3 linked regions of the Homo sapiens genome follow. The protein of the gene in region 2 purifies or fractionates together with the protein of the main gene of each other region. This does not show direct contact. Each region holds a gene or a part of one and is shown on either strand. Other genes may lie near its edges.

Evidence for each region.
Region 1: the proteins of KLRK1 (region 2) and DCAF10 purify together in Homo sapiens (affinity purification with mass spectrometry, with the first as the bait; one large-scale study listed by BioGRID). This does not show direct contact.
Region 3: the proteins of KLRK1 (region 2) and RSPRY1 purify together in Homo sapiens (affinity purification with mass spectrometry, with the first as the bait; one large-scale study listed by BioGRID). This does not show direct contact.

The regions. Positions count from the first base shown.
Region 1 is NC_000009.12:37,803,733-37,807,468, reverse strand, and holds part of DCAF10 (DDB1- and CUL4-associated factor 10), read right to left. Parts: intron 1-3,736. UniProt on the Homo sapiens protein: May function as a substrate receptor for CUL4-DDB1 E3 ubiquitin-protein ligase complex.
Region 2 is NC_000012.12:10,373,030-10,376,765, forward strand, and holds part of KLRK1 (NKG2-D type II integral membrane protein), read right to left. Parts: intron 1,108-3,736; exon of another isoform or gene 1,006-1,107; intron 203-1,005; coding exon 85-202; 3' UTR 1-84. Other genes in the region: KLRC4-KLRK1 (NKG2-D type II integral membrane protein), read right to left, coding at 85-202.
Region 3 is NC_000016.10:57,213,829-57,217,328, reverse strand, and holds part of RSPRY1 (RING finger and SPRY domain-containing protein 1 isoform 1 precursor), read right to left. Parts: intron 3,442-3,500; coding exon 3,383-3,441; intron 1,223-3,382; coding exon 1,156-1,222; intron 426-1,155; coding exon 294-425; intron 1-293.

The sequences.
Region 1 (3,736 bases), on a different chromosome or scaffold from region 2:
CTTTTATTTGACACAGATGCCCTTGTCTGAACCATGAATTGACATAGGAAACTAGATAAAGCCCTTCTAAGAATGTCCACATTAAATTTATAGTCATTAAATAACTTGTAGTCATGATACGTTAAAAAAAATCACACTTTTTAAAATTTTTTGTAGAGACAAGGTCTCCCTATGTTGCCCCAGCTGGTCTTGAACTCGAGCTCAAGCAATCCTCCACCTTCAGCCTCCCAAAGTGCTAGGATTATAGGCATGAGCTGCCATACCTGGCCTAAAAAAAAGAAATCACTCTTAACATCAACAGAATTGTTCATGGGAGCTGAATCCTCTTTTTGGCTTTTGCTGAAGTAACAGTAAGTATATTTTAAAATGTTTTTAGCCCTTCAAATGCTTGCTGTTAGTTTCATATAGTCAATATTTGTTTAAATATATTAATAACTAAGTCACAAAAATAATTTATTGATATACTTAATTATATTAAACCTAATCCCTCAGTCCAGGTGAGAGGTAACGTAACACAGCAGTTAACAGCATACACCAAGGTACAGAACCTTCATTTAATAAACTTTCTGCTTCTTAATTCCCCCAACTAAATGTGTCTGGTAGACAGAAAAAGATGTATTTTGGTAGTCATTTTCATTTATAACATGAGTGTCATTAATGCCTACTGTAGGCAGGTATTCATTGGGTGTTGGCACACTTATCCTATCTAAATAATGGGGAAATTAAACAAGAATGATAAAACTAAGGATGTGCATCCCAGAAGTTATTCATCCATAAACCATCCCCACAGGCCTCGATCATCTGCTGTAGATTCTATCCTGCCATGGGAATGTATACTGTGCCAAGAGAATTAATATATTTTGATGGCAACTGCGGTAGTACAGTACTATTACTCTCATTTGACTGCTCTTCTTTCTGGATCTCCCGGGGCTGTAGTTCCCAAAGGGGCCATGTGAGAGTGATATGAGAAAGGTAGGCAGCCCTACTCTTAGGGAAGCCAGATGGTCACTGGGCCTATGGATTTTTTTGTGTGTTGGAGGTTGCCAGGCACGGGTGAGGAGTAATTAGAATGGCTGCTGCCCTGTAGTTCTCCAGTGAGATGTTTGCTGACAGTCTCTTGCTGTCCTAGTTCTTAACTCTTTAGTTGCTATATAATTGGTTACTATAGGAAGTCCCAAGGAAGGCGATGAAGCATTAAGATGACACTTAACAGGCTTGGGACAGTAACTGTTCAACCACTATGGACATATCAATATTTTAACAACTAGTATAGCTGAACCAGTATCAGCTGAATAGCAGGCCTGAATGTAGTCTACGAATGCCATTAAGAGTAAGATTTTAAGAGGTACTGTTCTTTTATTTATTTTTTAATTTTATTTTATTTTTTGCAAGACAGGGTCTCTGTTGCCCAGGCTGGAGTGCAGTGGCACAATCCTGGTTCACTGCAGCCTCCACCTTCCGAGCTCAAGTGGTCCTCCTGCCTCAGCCACCTGAGTAGCTGGGACAAAGGGACACGTCACCACAACCAGCTAATTTTTGTACTTTTTGTAGAGACAGGGTCTCCTTATGTTGCCCAGGGTGGTCTCAAACTCCTGGGCTCAAGTGATCCACCTGCCTTGGCTTCCCAAAATGTTGGGATTGTAGGCGTGAGCCACTGCGCCAAGCTACTCTTTGTCTTTTAATTAGAATATTTAGTACCTTATAGTTATTGCAACTAGTAATGTTTGGATTTATTTTCAGCTATTCTTTGTGCTTTTTATTTATTATATCTTGTCTTTTTTTCTTTTCCTTTCTTGCCTTCTTTTGGAATTTTTTTCTCATTCTGTACTTTTTCTTGTACTAGTCTGGAAATTATAATCTTTCTTGTCTTTTGGTTCCTTGAAAATTTTAAATACCTATTAAAGCCCAAAGTTAACATATATTATTATCCCCCCAAATACATAAAAACTTAGAATGTCACTTATCATTTATTTTTATTTTACTTTGAGATGGAGTCTCACTCTGTCACCCAGGCTGGAGTGCAGTGATGTGATCTCCGCTCACTGCAACCTCTGCCTCCCAGGTTCAAGTGATTTTCCTGCCTCAGCCTCCCAAGTAGCTGAGATTACAGGTGTATGCCACCACACCAGGCTAATTTTTTTGTATTTTTAGTAGAGACAGGGTTTCATCAGGTTGGCCAGGCTGGTCTCACACTCCTGACCTCAAGTGATCCGCCCGCCTCGGCCTCCCAAAGTGCTGGGATTACAGGCATAAACCACCACACCCGGCCTCACTTCATAATTTATATGCTATTATTGTCTTCTATTTTTGTTCCATCTCTATTAATCCCAAAAGACATTATCAGATTAACATGTACATACATATTTAACACTTTTTGTTCTTCATTCCTTCTAGCTTCTCAGACCTTCCGTTTGAAAATAATTTCCTTCTCTCTGAACTTAGAATTCCTTTATTGGAGGTCTGCTGGCAAACTTACTCAGCTTTCCTTGTCTGAATATGTATTTATTTCATCTTTGTTCTTGGCAAGGACAAAGAACCTATGTTTGTTGGGTATAAATCTAGACTGAGGGTTTTTTCCTAGCATATTGAAATAATTACCACTGTCTCTATATTTATATTATGGTTGAAGACTAATTGGCTATCACTCTCATAGTTGCTCCTTTGAGGCCTTTTTTCTCTACTTTTTTTTTTTTAAATGGAGTTTTGCTCTTGTTGCCCAGGCTGGAGTGCAGTGGTACGGTCTTGGCTCACCGCAAGCTCTACCTCCCAAGTTCAAGCGATTCTCCTGCCTCAGCCTCCTGAGTAGCTGGGATTACAGGCATGCACCACCACGCTCGGCTAGTTTTGTATTTTTAGTAGAGACAGGGTTTCTCCATGTTGGTCAGGCTGGTCTCGAACTCCCAACCTCAGGTGATCCACCCACCTCAGCCTCCGAAAGTGCTGGGATTACAGGCGTGAGCCACCGTACCCGGCCCCTTTTTCCTCTGTCTTTTAAGATTTTATATTTATTGTCCCACAGTTTCACTACAATATGTCTAGAAAGAATTCTTGCTTGGGTTTGTTGGGCTTCTTAAATCATGGCTTGGTGCCTTTCTTCAATTCTGGAAAGTTCTCAGCTATTATGTCTTCAAATAGTCCCCCTTACACCATATGATATGCTTATATGGTATAAGCGTACCATATAGTTAGCCAGAGTTCCTGAAGAAACTGGGACTATTTTCTTTAGGAACTCTGGCTAACTATATGGTATGCTTTTTCTCTCTATGCTCTGTGTTACTAAATCTCCTTTTCATATTTTCAATCTCTGTGTTTTCCAGGTCTGTATTCTAGTTAGTTTCTTTGCTTCTATTTTCCAATATGTGAATTATCTCTATAGCTGTGCCTAATGTGTTCTCATGGAGGACAGTTTGACAGGGTCTGACATACTATAATTTATTAACATTATCAATTTTACTTTTTCAAAATGTCATTTTAGAAGGTGATACACTTATTTTGACAATGTTTCTATCACTTAAAACATTTTTTGAATTCTTTAGAAAATACCTTCTAACCCATTTATCTTTTTTATTGCCAAATTCCTTATATTGTGGTCTCTATTAAATTCATAATTTTAATTTTTACATTCTGTGTCACCCCCTCCTTCTCTGTATTGAGAAGTCCTTGAGGGTGACAGTGGTTATGCTACCTGGTAAGCTGATTTAACTCATATTTAACTGAAAGATATGAGAAATTACCT
Region 2 (3,736 bases):
GTTTCCTTTAGTCTCAGTTGGCAGTGTTACCGCTGGTGTAATCTCTTCTCTGTTCCTGGCTTTTATTGAGATGGTTGATCATCTTTACACAGTCCTTTGCATGCAGATGTACGTATTTGGAGTTGAACAGTTTTCTATATAGCCTTTAAAGCTCGAGGCATAGAGTGCACAGTCTCCCTTCTGCATTTCAATTATTGTTAGTCTAGAGGAGAGACAATTACAAATTACATACATGATTTTATTAACGCGGGAAAATAAAAATGAATCATACCTATTGAACTTCAAATACAGGAACTTAATACCATTTTAGGAGATTATGGACCATGCCTGGTCCTAATTCATAAACAAAATATAGCCAACTCAGATAATAAAAATAAAAATTATAAATAATGCGCCACTCTTTTTATCATACATCAGAAACTAGCCAATTCTGAAGTCTAAAATCTCTTCATATGTATACCCAAGTTAAATGAAAACTTTAGAATGTTTATTTTAAAACAAATATTTAAGTGAGAAATAAATTCAGTGTTCAATTTAGAATTTGATACTGTGTTTTGTGGAAAAATAAAACATTTTCTTCAGATATATGCAATTTTACTTGGTAAGGAAATGAAAATAAAATTTCAAATCTAATACATACATACACACATTCACAAGTGTGTATAAGTGTGTGTGTGTGTGTGTGTGCATATGTTTAGGCATTCCATGTGGAGATTTCTATATCTATATATGTGTTTTACTCTGGCATCTTTAATCTTTTGGAGTTATATGATTAATAATGATACTTTGTTTTCTTTCATAAGAGATGGGAAATAGAAAGCTCAAGAAAGAGTGAGGATGTCACTTCAATGTAAAATTGACAAAAAAATAAAAAGATTATGGTCTGATGCTATCCCTATTTAAAAAGACGATGTAATGATCTCTGTTCTGTAACTGAACAATCGGCCACTGTAGGGAGAAAACTATTCTTAAAGAGTTTTTGTTTTGTTGTTTGTTTGTTTTTAGACAGAATCTTGCTCCGCTGCCAAGGCTGGAGTGCACTGGTTCAATCTCGGCTCACTGCAAACTCTGCCTCCCAAGTTCAAGTGATTCTCCTGTGTCAGTTTCGTAAGTAGCTGGGATTACAGGCATGTGCCACCACATCCGGCTAATTTTTTTATTTTTAGTAGAGATGGTGTTTCACTACGTTGCCAGGCTGGTTATAAACTCCTGACCTAAAGCAATACACCCACCTCGGCCTCCCAAAGTGCTGGGATTACAGGTGTGAGCCACTGCACCCGGCCCCAGCTGAGATTTTTTAATAACTGCTCTTACTAGGTTCAGTCTACATTAGAGTCTCGTTCTTTTTTTCTTTCTTTCCTCTCTCTCTTTTTTTTTTTTTTGACAGTGTTTTGCTCTTGTCAGCCAGGCTGGAGTGCAGTGGCGCAATCTCGGCTCACTGCAACCTCCACCTCCTGGGTTCAAGCAATTCTGCTGCCCCTCAGCCTCAGGAGTAGCTGGGGTTACAGGCACTTGCCACCACATCTGGCTAATTTTTGTATTTTTAGTAAAGATGAGCTTTCACCATGTTGGCCAAGCTGGACTTGAACTCCTGACCTCAGGTCCTCCCAAAGTGCTGGGATCACAGGCGTGAGCCACTGCACCCGGCCTCATTCTTTTTAATATCACTTTGTCCATGTGTTCCTTCGATTTCTTTCTCTGTTTTTTCATACTACTTTCATTACACTTCTGCCAGAGTACCTAACTAACTACACTGGATTATTTGTTTGTAACTACATCTCTGACTAGAGTTTGAAGCTCTAAAATGAGTTTTATTCTACTCATCTCTGTAGTTATCTCTGCATAATTCCTGGAAATTGTGCAGTAATCAACCAATATTTACTACATGCATAAACAGAAAGTTAGTATGCTAGTTGTTTTGCTTCTGAAAAAAAATTTTGTCCTTGTAGATAGGAAAATATTGAGAAACTATGATATAAACTCTTATTTTTTAGAGAATCAATGTTTTTTCTGTTAAAAAAACTCTCAAGCCATACATAAATGAGGCCATCCTGGATCAATTCTAAGGTATACTGGGGCTTCCAAATTACAAATAGATAATAAGGAAGGAAGGTAGGGAGTTCTTGCTACAATAAACACAAGGGGAAAATTGAAAATAACACATGAGAGTAAAAGGTTGTGCATTGATCATTGCCAATTAATCATTAAAGTAGCAAAGTAAATTTAAAAATCAGCGAAAAGAGCACTTTTTTAGTCATTTAATAGTAAGTCTGGCTCCAGAGCCAGAAATATATATATTTGAGTCCTCATTGCAACAATTATTCATTTTGTAACTTAAGTGAGTTATTTAACATGTTAAGATTCTGTTGTATACCATTAGAATTAGGTTAAAATAACACCTGTATACAGGATTGTTAAGTATATTTAATGAAAGGATACATTTAAGTGCTTAAATCTGTGTCTGACAGACAGGAAGCACCTAATTAACCTAATTTTAACATTGATATTGTTGTGACTTTTTATTACATTGAAGAATTGGAAATTCAAATATCTAAAGTCCCCTTGAAATAAAGAATTATAATATTTACAATCTAGAGGACTTCTGCAATATTTGTGATATTATGAGACTGAAAAAAGGAAAAGCAGTAGTGACAAAATGCTTAGGTTTCATTCCTGATCGTTGTAGCTGAATGAAGAAATTACTGAACAGTGTAGTGACAGGTCAGATCTTTCAAATGGTAGAAATGACCTTTCTTGAATACTCTAGCATTAATCTGGAGAATTACAACTATATTCATAAGATCAGTGAACATTAAGATGTTGTCACTTAGTCTGGGTGTGCTGAATTGCTCTGTGCAATCAAGTGGGTAAAAGAGCAGGCTATAAAAACTACAGACATGGGACACTTCAGAATCCAGAAAGACCAAGCTGTAGTTCACCGGACACAGAAATGGAGATAAGAGATTTGAAGAAATAAAGAAATGTAAAGATATGCAGAAGGTCACCTTTGAATATTCAGCAGAGTACTTACTAATGCATGTATGTAAAAAACTACTCCAGGATGGAGAAAGAACTGTCTGAAAAGATTTAGGGTAAACAATACTTAGTGCTAACATAGGGTCTAGTATTTTGCCTGTTTCTACCAGCCATATTACAAAACTTTGTATTTCAAAGGTTATCACATAGAATACATAGAAAACAGCAGAATAAACATTTCTGATCAAATACACCTAAAACATTTTTAAAAACACACTATAGTCTAGTCCATAACACTGATGTCAATAAATTTAAGTTTTAAATTATACAAAATAATTCGCTAATGAAAATGAAATTAAATTAGAAATCAATAATAAAAATGTCTGAAAAATTCACAAATGTTGAAAACTAAATGACACATGTAAATAATCAATGAATCAAAGAATGCAAAAGACAATTTAGAAACTATTTTTAACTGAATGGAAACAAAAAGTAGTATCTCAAAATATGACGGGATGTTGCCAAATCATCTCACATATTAATAGTATAACTTTTATTAGAAAAAAAGGTTTCAAATCAACATATCAGCTTTCAATATAAGAAACTAAAAAAGCAAATTTAACCTACTATAAGAAGACAGTAAATAATAAAGATCAAAGCAGAAATCAGTGAGAAGAAAATTTTTACCTAAATGGCAAATAAGCACACACAAAAAAATGCTACTTAACATCATTGCATTAGTAAAATGCAAGTTAAAACT
Region 3 (3,500 bases), on a different chromosome or scaffold from region 2:
TGTTGGAAAGAGCTGGTTAGACAGTGCCATATAATTAAGGGCTTTGATGCAGCAGGAAACTGGGTGCCAGTAAAGGTTTTTGAACAGGAAAATGCTGAAATTAGAAGCATACCATGTAATTCTTGTCTAAAGGGTCTCTAGGATACTTTTCTGCTAGAATATATCCAACCTGCCAGTAGAGGTCCTTATGAGGACTCATACTTACCATTGCAAAAGGAAGACCAGTGAGCCTATGAAAGAAATGAGTCTGGAAATGGAAACGGACATTTTAATAAAGGACAACTCCCACTTACAGAGATTGTCTAAGCTCCACTGGGCACAGAAACCAACTTGACGTTTCAGATAATCAGGATCATTAGCCCAGGACTCCAATGTGACAAGCCGGTCACTAATACTGGATTCAGAAATAGTCAATTTATTTTCACCTGTTTGGAAAGACATAATCCTTGAATTAACAATGAAAGGGTAGAATGATTTGCTCAGCAAATTAGTATTGCTAAGGAGGGGGAAGAGGCAATTAAAGAATTGGAGACTAGATTAGACTTCAATTAAAATTTCTAGGGAAAACATAGCCAAAGAGCTTTGACTATTTTGTTTTCCTTTTTTTTAGTCACAGGGTCTCACTCTGTTGCCTAGGCTGGAGTGCAGTGGCACAACTATGGATCACTGTAACCTTGAACTACTGGGCTCAAGTGATCCCCCCGCCTCAGCATCCCAAGTAGCTAGGAACATAGGTGCATGCCACCATGCCTGGCTGATTTTTTAAAATTTTTTGTAGAGATTGAGTCTTGCTATGCTGCCCACCCTGGTCTCGAATTCCTGGCCTGAAGCAATGCTCTGGCCTTAGCTTCCCAAAGTGCTGGGATTATGGGCAAGAGCCACCATACTTTTTTCTAGAAACTAGCAATCACATCACTAAATTTTTGGCTATAAAAAGTGAGTAAACATGGTTACCAAGTTTTGATTCTTAGGTGAGAAAATCCTTGCCTTTGTCCCTGTTATACTTCATTGGCTTTAACGTGTCTATCCAGATGAAAACAGAATGTATGCCCATCTGATGGGGTTCAAAGTGTAGGCTTATCCAGTAACTAAGAAAAATAAAATTTTTAACAACCAATACAGAAGATCATTAGTGCAAGAAGTCACTATACCTACTTGTCTGTGCAAACTTTTCCAGTGCGATAAGTGCAAAAAGCATGACTGTGGGGTGGGACTGTAACTTCTGAAAAACAACAAAAGATAAAAAAAAAAAAAAAAAATCATTCCCCTGCAGAGGTGGCAAGTTATCAGTTTCATTTCCTTGCCCAATATGTGCTAGATGTTTTTTCGAGTGGTCAGAAAAGTTTCATTCATTCAAGTTCTCAATTATCCATTTGGCTAATAATGTTAGTAATGAACTGGACAGGCTCTCTTAATCTTGTATTTTTTTCTTAAAGTCACTAGGTTAATTTATAGATTTGGAAATTTCAAAAGTATCCTGTTAAATACACTATGTTATTTTACTTAATAAAACTTACATTAGGGCTTTGTTAAATAAAATATTCATTCTCACATTCATTTATGCAAGCCAAACAGAAACCTAGAATTATAAACTAAAAATGATATTTTACTTAGAATCCTAAAAAGAACCACTTATCACTAACAAGTTGCAAAATTATAAATAATTAAATTAACAATTAATGGCTCAGTTTTTAAGCTGTTCCCTGAAAGGAATTCTACAAATGCTGATGGTAGACAGGAGAAAGCAACAAGTGAACTCTTTTAGTTACATTTAAGCTCATGTCACATGAGTTCCCCTTTAAGGAAAGGTCTATCTGTTGAACATGACACCTTCTCATAGCTGTGCTTTCCCTACTGCTACATTGGGAGCCACCAGAGGAGCTCCAGAACATCAGATGATTCCCACTGACTTCCCTGGTACCTCCTAAGTTCTGGAAACCTCACATAACCACCATCCCTGCTGCTGGAAAGCCTATTCAGCATTCTATTTCTTCTCATATCCATCTAAATCCCTCTGCCTGGCTTTTCAGGCCCTAAACCCTTTCTAGCTGGCTACTCAGTCTGTGTCCTATCTCTGAACACTGTCTTCTCTCATCAGACAATTCTCTGTCTCTGGACTTCTGCCTGTGATGTTCCCTTAGCTAAGAAACCAATTTTTTCCCTCCTCTGGGCACAATAAAATCCTCATCTATAGCATGACCCAGCTGAGGGTCCACCTTCATCAGGAAGTCTGACTTTCATGACACCCCGGCTCTCATTACCCATACCACCCACCTTCTCATTTAGTCTTTTTTTTTTTTTGAGATGGAGTCTCGCTCTGTCGCCCAGGCTGGAGGGCAGTGGTGAGATCTCAGCTAACTGTAATCTCTGCCTTCTGGGTTCAAGTGAATTCCTGCCTCAGCCTCCTGAGTAGCTGGGACTACACACACATGCCACCATGCCCAGCTAATTTTTGTATTTTTAGTAGGGACCAGGTTTCGCCATGTTGGCCAGGCTGGTCTTGAACTCCTGACCTCAGGTGACCAGCCCACCTCAGCCTCCCAAAATGCCGGGCTTATAGGCATGAGCCACCGTGCCCGGCCCTCATTTAGTCTTGATGAAGTACTTTCTCCCATGATCACATCCTGTGATAAAATGGAGGCTAATTACCTTGTCTGAGTAGTTTTGTTTCCTCAACTAACCAATAAACCTCTTGAAATCATAGGACTGCCATGTTGTATCCCCAGAGTGCTCATTGAGAGTAAGGTAAGTGTTTTAAGCACGTATCAGTGGGTATTGACAAATAAGGGTTTTCAGACCAGAGTTTTGAAAAGGGCCAATGCTCACTAGGCCTACAAAAATAACTTTTAAAAATACAGACCATTCAAGACCACAGGCCAGAACTATGAGAGATCTGAGGGCACAGCCTCAGCAAACCAGAAGCTTCATAGACAATATATTAAATATTCCAGTGACAACAGTTTTAAGAGTAGCAGTGAGGGGGAGGGCAGGGAGGAGTAGAGATTTATATATACTGGGAATCTGACTTGATGGCCTCCTGGCTTGGAACGCCATGTAATTGTTTCTACTGTGGAGGTCCCTATTACCATTTGGCAAACTCAAGGAACATGCAAAAGAGCCAATCATAGCAGCTATCTTATGACTAAATTTAAAACCAGACTAACTCAGCTGTTTTTGCTGGTTGGGATAAATTCCAATCCCACTCTCTTTTTTAAACATAGGAGGGAATAAATAAGCACTCGGGAAACACCTGCAAATAAAATTTACAATTGATTCCATTCTCTGTGCCAGTGGCTATGCCAGCAATTTGAGAAAATGCACAGTTCTAGATGATGCCCACTTCTAGATGACTAAGAATAAATAGTTTTGATGTCTCACTTACCAGACACTGTAGCAAGTATTCCAGTATTCCTGGGCTAAGTAAACCTATACTTGCAGGACCTAGACAAATACAACAAACACTTGATATAATTAAAATGCCAGATTATTTTAAATCACTG